Linked DNA regions of Homo sapiens: region 2 is linked to region 1. Evidence: fine-mapped QTL for protein levels in blood plasma. Region 1 holds a variant in brackets. A gene starts in the other region. All regions are shown on their forward strands.

Region 1 (5,376 bases):
CTCTCCTTCCCCAGGCTTTGGTCAATCTCATCCTTTTCCCAGTGTGCTGGGATTCGCTCTCCTCCAGACCTCCCCAAAGGCAAGTGAGCTCCCCAAGGGCAAGGCCTGTGTCCAGCTCCTCCCTGTGGACTCAGGCTTGGCACAGCATCTGCACAGCTCATGAGCAGTCGACAGCTGTGTCAGGGATGCCAGAAAACTGATCCTGATCTTTTCTTTTTGTCAACAGCTCCTTTTCTCAACATCACCCGTCCAAACAGTAAGTTCTGAGCTCCCTGACAAGTCTGTGGCAGAGTGGCCTGGAAATTCCCCTTCCCATTTCCTCAGTGACAATGGGGCTGGGGAGGAGATGGCTTCCCCCAAAGTGGTCTCCCTGCAAGAGTGCCCTGCCAGCCCTCAGTGGACGGTCCAGATCTAGGCCACCTCTTGCTCTTACTTGGTTTCTGTCTTGGGAATTATTTTATAAAATTTTAAAGTAATTTAAATTTAAAGTAGTCCGCAGGTAGACTGTGCAGTGTGCTCTGGGGGTCACCGACATTCCCACTTTTTGTCCTGACAGCAGATTATTCCTGCGGAGGCTTCCTATCCCAACCATCAGGGGACTTTTCCAGCCCATTCTATCCCGGGAACTATCCAAACAATGCCAAGTGTGTGTGGGACATTGAGGTGCAAAACAACTACCGTGTGACTGTGATCTTCAGAGATGTCCAGTAAGTGTGCGCCCAGAAGAATGCCTTGGGGCCCCACAGACCTTTCAAGAGGGAATAAATGGTGCTTAAGTGTGCGCCCAGAAGAATGCCTTGGGGCCCCACAGACCTTTCAAGAGGGAATAAATGGTGCTTAGAAAGCCAGGAGAGAAGTTTGCTGAGAGACATTTTTGACCTAGCCCAGAGGCATCCCGTGGAGAGTTGGGGAGGGGGCACGAGAGCCTTGGAGTGGACAAAAGCTCTGGTTTCAAGTCCTAGGTCTTTCACCAATTTGCTGTGTGACCACAGGAAGTCACTCAACTTTCCTGAGCCTCAGTCAAAAGAGGGGAATAAAATACCTGCTTTCCTCACCTCACTGTTTACTGGGAAGGTCACGAGAAACAGAGAGGAGAGAGAGGGAGAGAGATGTGAAAATATTTACAAAATGTTGTCCAGTGGAAAAGATGGTTGTTAAGTAGTAATGATAGACTTAGGGGCAATAATAGCACTAATAATCCTATTAACAACCACACTGGCCAGGTATGCTGCCTCAGGGTTGTAATCCCAACACTTTGGGAGGCCGAGGCAGGAGGATCACCTGAATGCAGGAGTTCAAGACCAGCCTGAGCAATATAGGGAGACCCCCCATCTCTACAAAAAAGTACAAAAATTAGCTGGGTGTGGTGGCCTGCACCTGTAGTCCCAGCTACTAAGGAGGCTGAGGTGGGAGAATCGCTAGAGCCCTGGGAGTTGAAGGTTGTGGTGAACTATGATAGCGCCAGTGCACTCCAGCTTGTGGAACAAAACGAGACCCTGTCTCAGGAAAACAAAACAAAACAAAAAGAACAATTGTATCTGTTTTGTGGAACCCTTTTTCTCCACCCATTCCTTTCTTCATGTGAGTTCCCCAGGGGTCGGGCAGAGATGGAGGAATTGCTGCTCCAGAGGGTAGGGTATCTGCTCTGCATCCAATCATAAGTAGAAATCATCGTTTTAAGCAGAGAGGACATTACTAAAAGCACTTTTCTTTCTTTCTTTCTTTCTTTCTTTCTTTCTTTCTTTCTTTCTTTCTTTCTTTCTTTCTTTTCTTTCTTTCTCTCTCTCTCTCTCTCTTCTCTCTCTCTCTCTCTCTCTCTCTCTCTCTCTCTCTCTCTCTCTCTCTCTTTCTCTCTTTTTCTTTCTTTCTTTTTTTTTCCGGACATGGAGTCTCGCTCTGTCACCCAGGCTGGAATGTAGTGGCACGGTCTCGGCTCACTGCAACCTCTGCCTCCCGGGTTCAAGCGATTCTCCTGCCTCAGCCTTTCAAGTAGCTGGGCTTACAGGCACACGCCACAATGCCTGGCTAATTTTTGTATTTTTATTAGAGACGGGGTTTCACCATATTGGTCAGGCTGGTCTTCAACTCCTGGCCTCAGGTTATCCTCCCACCTCGGCCTCCCAAAGTGCTGGGATTACAGGTGTGAGCCACCATGCCTGATGTCAAAAGTACATTAATATATGATTTATCCAAGGAGGCGGGTGGCCCAGCTAACTGTGAAGAGGCACCAGTGTTTGCTAGTGTCCTGAACAAGGGGCTACACTAATTTCTTCTCTAACAGCCACTGTTGAACAAAATAGTTTTCCCTGTTGATTTCTGTTTGCAGTGGGCTTTGGAGTCTCTGCTTTAGTGATTCATTTGGGATTTTGCAAAAGATACATCATTTTATTCTCTTTGTCATTACAATACAAAG[A/G]TTGCACTTAAAGCTGATGCAGTCCTATGGGAAAAGGTTGACCATGACTGGTTCTTTAACCAGCATCTTGATAGCAATGACCATCACCATTTGTGACATTTTACAAAGCCCTTTTCTGTATGTTGTTTTATTTGAGCTTCACCATAGCCCTCTTCAGTGTGCATGGATCAGATTACTTTGCCTTTGTAAATAGGAAAAGCTTTAGAGAGATTATTTGACTTGCCCAGTATTTATTTATTCAATTATTTATTTCTCTCACTATGAATTCATGCATATTGATTTTATTCTGTGGGGGCACTAGGGACTTTTCGATGGAAGAAAAATGGTCTAAATCAGGATGCGAGCCCTTCCTTTCCTGATGTAAAGGGCTGACAGGTGAGGGGCTGTAGATTTCATATGTGTGATTGCAAAGGGCAGGACTAAGACCCAGGCATGGAGGTTGAGGGAAGATGAGACTCTCTTGATTTAAGGATACCTATGACTTTCTTTTGTTTCAATTTTTATTTTTCTTTTTATTTTTTGAGACAGGGCCTCACTCTGTCGCCCAAACTGGAGTGCAGTGGCACGATCTCGGCTCACTGCAACCTCTGCCTCCTTGGTTCAAGTGATTTTCCTGCCTCAGCCTCCTGAGTAGCCTCCCTCACCCTACAGGCTTGTGCCACCACGCCCGGCTAATTTTTGGATTTTTAGTAGAGACAGGGTTTCACCACGTTGGCCAGGCTGGTCTCGAACTTATGACCTCAGATGATCCACCTGCCTTGGTCTCCCAAAGTGCTGGGATTATAAGTGTGAGCTACTGCGCCCAGCCAAGGAGACCTATGACTTTCATCGATGAACTTTGTCAGAGTTTCTGGCACAGAGGTGTGACCCCACCCTGAGATCTGACCCCCTGCGTCAAATTCTGGGAGGAAATGAAGCCAAATGGTGTGTCCTCTCTCTGCAGGCTTGAAGGTGGCTGCAACTATGATTATATTGAAGTTTTCGATGGCCCCTACCGCAGTTCCCCTCTCATTGCTCGAGTTTGTGATGGGGCCAGAGGCTCCTTCACTTCTTCCTCCAACTTCATGTCCATTCGCTTCATCAGTGACCACAGCATCACAAGGAGAGGGTTCCGGGCTGAGTACTACTCCAGTCCCTCCAATGACAGCACCAGTAAGTCCCCTTGTGGAAATGCTCTGTTGGGACTGGGGACATCCTGAGAGCATCTGTGGCTCAACTGTCCTGTTGTTGTGAAATAAGAAATGAAGGAACCCTTTCAGGTCACCAGGGCTTGATTTTCAGCTGAAAGGGACCAGGAGCAGTGGGACTTGGGACTCTGGCTGCCCAGAAATAAAGTCAGGGCTAGAACTGGCTGATGGGTGATGATTGGTCTTACTGTGGTCAGCAGAGACTAAGTAGAGGGTCCCAGATGATGCTCTTCGTGGAGAGTGATGAGTCAGTGCCAAAGGCAGAGGTGACCTCTTGGCTTGAAACCTTGTGACCTTCTCAGAGTGTGGGACACTGTGGCCATGGCCTGAGACCTAACACATTTGGTTTCTATCTGAAGATGGACTGAGCTGGGTGGCTGGAAGTGGCTGAGATAAGGTCACTCAGACACTTCCAGCAGAGCCTGTATGGCCATGATTTGAGTTGCTGTATGGACTGATATGTAGAATGGCCAAGGGCCAGGCAAGGTGACATCCAGGGTCTCTTATGCAGTCAGGATTAAAGACTGACTTGCTTCATGGCTAAAAGACCTTGTTTCATGACATTCCCACAATTTGATCATACAGTTACTTTACTTTATAGATAAATGGTAACTTGGCCAAACATACCACTTATTTAAAAATCCTGCCTCCAATTCTCCATCAGAGAAATCCTGAGTCCACGTGCTCTCCTTGGGCTTTCATAAGGATGGGGCTGACTTGACCCTCGGGTCCTTGGGGGATTGCAGTGAGGTCTATGCCCACATCCTAAGTGCTGACCCTCCCTGTCAGCCACCCTGGTCTGTGCACTTTTTAAGTGGAAACAGCCTCTGGCCCCGTAGGACTTGTGGAGTCTGGGGCAGTGACTGAGTGCCTTATCTGTCCTTGTCTATCAGACCTGCTCTGTCTGCCAAATCACATGCAAGCCAGTGTGAGCAGGAGCTATCTCCAATCCTTGGGCTTTTCTGCCAGTGACCTTGTCATTTCCACCTGGAATGGATACTACGAGTGTCGGCCCCAGATAACGCCGAACCTGGTGATATTCACAATTCCCTACTCAGGCTGCGGCACCTTCAAGCAGGTAAGCCTGGGGCTTCCCATTCCATTTCCCAGTGCACAAGCTTTCTTAGAGCGGTATGTCCTGTGCTTCTTGAATTCTGGGGATGAAGAAATTATGATTTTGGGATAATCAGGACATAATTGGAATAAAGGAAGATAAAAAACCTTTGGTGCTATGATATGGCTGCAGCTACTTCCAAATAGGAAGAAGGAAGCTGAGCAGAAAGAGTATCTCCAGCTGTGTCCAGCAGAGAGGGCTTCTGGCAGACCGCCACTCCCATCAGCAATAACAACAGCAGCTCCTGGAGCAGCTCCAGATTTTGCAGGGCCTGAAGCTTATACAGTTAGGGTTGGGGGTGAGAGGCAGGTGTTGAGATGGGCAGGGGCCTCATTAAGTCAAAGAATGCAATATCTATGAACTTTTATAAACTTTGCAAAAACGTATGGCTGTGCAAACACATTGCTAGGCCTTGGAGGAGGCCTGCACATTGCAGTAGGCAGGGAAGAGGGGGCCCAAAAGCTTCAGCTTCATTAGCTCCATAGTCAGCTGGCCTCTGCAGCTACCATTTGTTGAGCTATCACCATCTAAGATGGCCCCCTGCATCCAATTTTGGGTGAAAGTGAAGCCAATATGGTGTGTCCCTTCTCTACAGGCTTGAAGGTGGCTGCAACTATGATTATACTGAAGTTTTCAACAGCCCCTACCACCGATTTCTGTGG
Region 2 (5,376 bases), not on the chromosome of region 1:
ACCCCCATTACACAAGTTTACCTCTGTAACAAACTTGCACTTGTACCACTTAACTTAAAATTAAAGTTAAAGGGTGGGTGTGTTAGCTCACGCCTGTAATCCCAGCATTTTGGGAGGCTGAGGCAGGCAGATCATGAGGTCAGGAGATCGAGACCATTCTGGCTAACACGGTGAAACCCCATCTCTGCTAAAAATAAAAAAAAATAAAAAAACTTAGCCGGGTGTGGTGGCGGATGCCTGTAGTCCCAGCTACTCTACTCGGGAGGCTGAGGCAGGAGAATGGCGTGAACCCCAAAGGCGGAGCTTGCAGTGAGCTGAGATTGAGCCACTGTACTCCAGTCTGGGTGACAGAGCCAGACTCCATCTCAAAAAAAAAAAAAAAGATTAAAGTTAAAAAAAGAAAAGAAAACATTATGCCATAAAGTATTTTTATCTTAGATTTTTTAAAAATTAATTGCTTGTTTAATTTTCACAAGATAAATATGTAATGATACCAAGTATACCCGACTCTTCCCTACTATATCCTTTGTTAACGGAAGAATATTTCTGAATCTCTTATTTATAGAAAAAAATAGGAATCATTCTCTGGTTGTAATCATTTTAAAAGGTATAACTACTTTTTGTAAAAGCAGAAAAAATTTGGATTAATTTAACAAATGCATATGAACCAGTGAGAATAAACAATGTTAACATTTGTCATCTTTGTTTAATATCGTTAGTTTTTGTTTTTATTTTTTGAGACAGTTCCCTGTTCTATCACCCAGGCTGGAGTGCAGTGGCACAACTCACTGCAACCTCTACTTCCCAAGCTCAAACAATCCCCCACCTTAGCCTCTTAAGTAGCTGAGACTACAGGCATGTGCCACCATATCTGGATATATATATATATATATATATATATATATATATATATATATATATATATATATATACTTTTTTTGTAGAGATGGGGTCTCGCTATGTTGCCCAGGCTGGTCTCGAATTCCTGGGCTCAAGTGATCCTCTCATCTCAGTCTCCCAAAGTGCTGGGATGACAGGCTTGAGCCACCACACCAGGCCCATCATCAGTTTTTATATAAAGAAAAAAAAACCTTAAAATTGTTAGGCAAATACTATGACAAATTGTAATATATATTCTTACATTTCAGATTTTTATTTTTTAAACTGTATAAGAATTGATTAATAAATAAAATTTAGTATTAATCTGTCTTTTAAAACCATATATAAAGTTTATCAAATAGCTTATAACTTCTTGCAACTGAATTTTTGTATTCAATGTTATGGCTTTGATACTAGTCCAAGTTGAAATATAGATATCTACTTTATTCGATTTAAATTCTGTTTAGTATTTTATTATATTTTGTTAATCCATTTGTCCCAATTCATATACTTATCTCTCTTTCTGTGAATATTCAGGTTAGTTTTTTCTTCCTAATTTTGCATTCTGATTGGCTTTTATTCCCTGAATTATAAATGACTATTCTATGATGATTCTGGTAAATACTCAATTTCACCACACAATCTTTGACTTCATACTAACAAACAGTTGACTTCAAATGGACAATTTCAATGAAGCCTGACTTCATATTTAGCTCCTTTAAGCTTCCTTAGGCATCAGCTCTCTACAATTCTCACATTGAGAATATGTGTATTTTGTTAGCTCAAACCTTGTTAGACATGTTAAATGTTTAGAAATATAAATTTAACCTACCCCTTGAGGTAGGTCTTGAGAGGTTTGTGAGCCTAAAAAGACATGGAGGAACCACTTATTGCCACAAGCACATTGTTCTAAATTATTTGGAATCAGTTAATTCTTCCCCATCTCCTACCCATGCCTGACACCAAAGAGGAGCCTCTAAATTTACAGGGAATACAAGGAAGTCTACTGTTCTCTGCTCCTCTCTGGGTTATTAGGGCACATGGGAGCCCTCAGTTGTTTTCTGCTGAGCAAGAGCAAAGTCCACCTTGGACTTAGACAGCTTGCCAAATTTTTTGCCAGAAGGGGACCTGAGTTGTGACCACTCCCAGTGTGTGCCGGGAAAAGGCTCGTACTGGTGCCAGAATCTCTTACTGTCAATGCTCCCAAAACTCACCGCTTGCCCCCACCCCTTTTGCTTAAATGACGTGGTTCTTATCTCAGATCCTGATATAAAGCTCCTACAGCTACCTGGCCTGAGAAGCCAACTCAGACTCAGCCAACAGGTAAGTGGGCATTACAGGAGAAGGGCGTCTCTAACATGCACTGTAGATCTAAAATCTTCGGGAAGATACAGCATGAGTTTCTGTCCAAGAGGTTTTAGCTGTAATGAAGCCTCAGTGGGATCCAAAGTTGTTTTTCAGTTACTGAGTCTGTATAATCCCCACTCTCAAGAGAAACATTTGAAGGTGTGGGTGTCTCAGAGGACCTTCCTGGTCTCAGAAATTCTGAGAGGAGGTTTTAAGGAAGGTAATAGGTGCTTTGCTCTCCATCTCTCAGAACCCCCTTCTCTGTGTTCTCCTATAGAGATTGTTGATTTGCCTCTTAAGCAAGAGATTCATTGCAGCTCAGCATGGCTCAGACCAGCTCATACTTCATGCTGATCTCCTGCCTGATGTTTCTGTCTCAGAGCCAAGGTAAGATCTCTTTTCCACCAACCAACTCTTTCTAGCCCTGAAGACTTCACTCTATCCCCAAGCATACGGGTCTACTTGAAAAAAAAAAAAAAAGCAGAGTCACTGTTAAGGGTTGTTTTGTGGTGTTTAGTGATCTTTATTGCTGATCTCTTCACATTTATATACATCCACACCTCATTAAGGAGTTGGAGCTAGAATTTAAAATGACCCCTTATAAGCAACTGCTGCAGTTGGCATGAGTTTATCTGATTAAATTTATACGTGATGGTGGATTTGGGGATGTCTGTGTGTAGACAGTCACTAATGGGGTGGAGAACTGAAGAGAGCCTTGTGTTCAGGGAAACCAAGTCAGGCTTGAGAAAGTAGAAGGCTGAGTCCTTCAAGGTAGAAGAGCCTGAGCTCCAGACATAAAAGGGAAACTGGAGACTTGTTTCTTTGGCCTATTCATTCTGTTTTTTTTCCCCTGATCAAAGAAACCAAAGACAGAAGATGTAGGATGCAGGAGCAATAGTGAGCAGTCATCCCATAATAGACTGGATTCTTCTGTTTCTATAAAGGAACCTCAGAAGCTCTTACCTCACCTTCAAGCCTTTTCCTTACCCTGAGAGCCTCCTTTAATTGTCTCTTCTTTTTCAGGCCAAGAGGCCCAGACAGAGTTGCCCCAGGCCCGGATCAGCTGCCCAGAAGGCACCAATGCCTATCGCTCCTACTGCTACTACTTTAATGAAGACCGTGAGACCTGGGTTGATGCAGATGTGAGTGAGGAGAGCAGTGTGGGAAGGGAGACTCATGAAGGGAGGGGAAGCTGCCACTCTCCAGTGTGTTCAGTGGCTGCAATGAGATGAGACTGAACCCCTTGCTATACTATCATCAGCCCCAAACTTTCCAATCTACTTTATCCCATTATTCAGCACATTCCCAGCACAAAGAACCTGGTGGTCAGTGACAGCATCATCACGGACATTACTCTGCTGTCCTTTTTCTGACCCGTCCTCTTGGAGGACTCAGTATATCCGTCACAACTTCCTCCTCCACTGAGTGCTCCATTTTCTTCTGCAACAGCTCTATTGCCAGAACATGAATTCGGGCAACCTGGTGTCTGTGCTCACCCAGGCCGAGGGTGCCTTTGTGGCCTCACTGATTAAGGAGAGTGGCACTGATGACTTCAATGTCTGGATTGGCCTCCATGACCCCAAAAAGGTAGGCTGCAGCCTTCTTTATCTCCTAATGATCAGGTTTGAGAAGTAAGAAGGAGGTTCAAGTTCTGGTCTCTTAAGTACCAGCTTTTATCGCTTTCCAGAAATCAGGCTGTTTACAGATCCTCTAATGTCCTGTGTAGCAAGGTGCACTGTAGATGATTGGAGATATAAGTGGAAGGCTGAATTTCCTAGGTGTTCTTGTCATTCATGAATAAACTTATTCTGTTTTCAGTCAACAAAGCATCTTTATGCACCAACTTCTTACCTATTTTGTTACTGTCAGAGTCACAAGAGAGACTAGATTGCCGACTATATAGGAAAGGAGACTTGTGGTAAAAATCTGCTGCTGTACTGCTGGCATTTGGGAACCTGGTAGTATACTAAATAATATAATATATCAACAACTAATGGTCAGCCAATGCTATGCTGGATATGAGGGTCCTGGGCCACAAAGACAAAAAATCAGGAACCACTTTTTAAGTGAGATACTTTGGGTCTCTGTCAAATTCATAACACTTATTTCTTGGTGGAATACAGTTAATGAGTTGGACAGTTCAGGAAAGAAGTTTAGAGCAATAGCAAAGGAAAGGAAACAATATTTAGCAAGGTTTATTCTTCCTTTGTGTCTTAGCATGTTTCTGAGTGTGCACACAGGCCCAGTGATTCCATGTATTTTTGAGTGACCACTGCCTCTGTTCTGGCCCTTCCCCATCTAGAACCGCCGCTGGCACTGGAGCAGTGGGTCCCTGGTCTCCTACAAGTCCTGGGGCATTGGAGCCCCAAGCAGTGTTAATCCTGGCTACTGTGTGAGCCTGACCTCAAGCACAGGTGAGAGGCAGAGAATCCATCCACCTGTTTCTGTTCTCTCCTGCTTAGCTCCAGGGATGGAACTGGGACTGGGATAGAGGAAAGGTGAACTCCTCATTAAGGAAATGGATGTTTGGTTTTTGTCCTGAGTCCTAAAGCCAGGAGGGTCATACTCTTTCGGGTCTCCCAGTTGTAACTCTTCTCATTGACTTATAGGATTCCAGAAATGGAAGGATGTGCCTTGTGAAGACAAGTTCTCCTTTGTCTGCAAGTTCAAAAACTAGAGGCAACTGGAAAATACATGTCTAGAACTGATCCAGCAATTACAACGGAGTCAAAAATTAAACCGGACCATCTCTCCAACTCAACTCAACCTGGACACTCTCTTCTCTGCTGAGTTTGCCTTGTTAATCTTCAATAGTTTTACCTACCCCAGTCTTTGGAACCCTAAATAATAAAAATAAACATGTTTCCACTATTGTGCTGTCTTACTGTGTCTGCTATTTCCACAGCTGATGCCTGGGTGGTTGAGATGAGAGTGATTACAACAAAGCTTGCTCTGGCCTATCCACTTCTTAAAAGTCCATCCGCATACCATGCATATTGGAATTCAGTATTTATGAACATATGTGGCTTTGCTTATGACAAGGTTAACAAGATGGAGATTGACCAAAAACTCACATGCTGGCATATCTCAAAGATTTTTGCATTCAGTTCCAGATCACTGTAATAAGGGTAATGTCACAGAAAAGCAAGT

Direction of the effects. Positions count from the first base shown, and alleles are read on the strand shown. Strength reflects both the effect of a copy and how common the allele is.
With allele G in place of A in region 1, the plasma level of the protein whose gene starts at base 2,176 in region 2 is higher (moderate association).

What was found. A credible set is the group of variants that fine-mapping cannot tell apart. PIP is the chance, under the fine-mapping model, that this variant and not a neighbour inherited with it causes the effect. The UK Biobank Pharma Proteomics Project read protein levels with antibody pairs (Olink). The fine-mapping took linkage between variants from a reference panel, not from the people measured, so its PIPs are less certain.
Region 2: it holds the start of REG1A, and the variant in region 1 is the best candidate, but not a certain one, in a credible set for the plasma level of the REG1A protein (UK Biobank, PIP 0.54).

The regions. Positions count from the first base shown.
Region 1 is chr10:122,632,635-122,638,010 of GRCh38, forward strand. DMBT1 (deleted in malignant brain tumors 1) reads left to right here. Exons shown (of 56, transcript NM_001377530.1): 51 at 227-256; 52 at 557-707; 53 at 3,357-3,565; 54 at 4,494-4,678. Among named protein-coding and RNA genes, the nearest start is that of SPADH, 38 kb to the right of the region's middle. The variant A/G (reference allele first, on the strand shown) is at 2,414.
Region 2 is chr2:79,118,313-79,123,688 of GRCh38, forward strand. It overlaps REG1A (regenerating family member 1 alpha), which reads left to right and starts at 2,176. Exons shown (of 6, transcript NM_002909.5): 1 at 2,176-2,202; 2 at 2,504-2,613; 3 at 3,250-3,368; 4 at 3,676-3,813; 5 at 4,529-4,640; 6 at 4,836-5,097. The coding sequence starts at 2,550. The coding sequence ends at 4,903.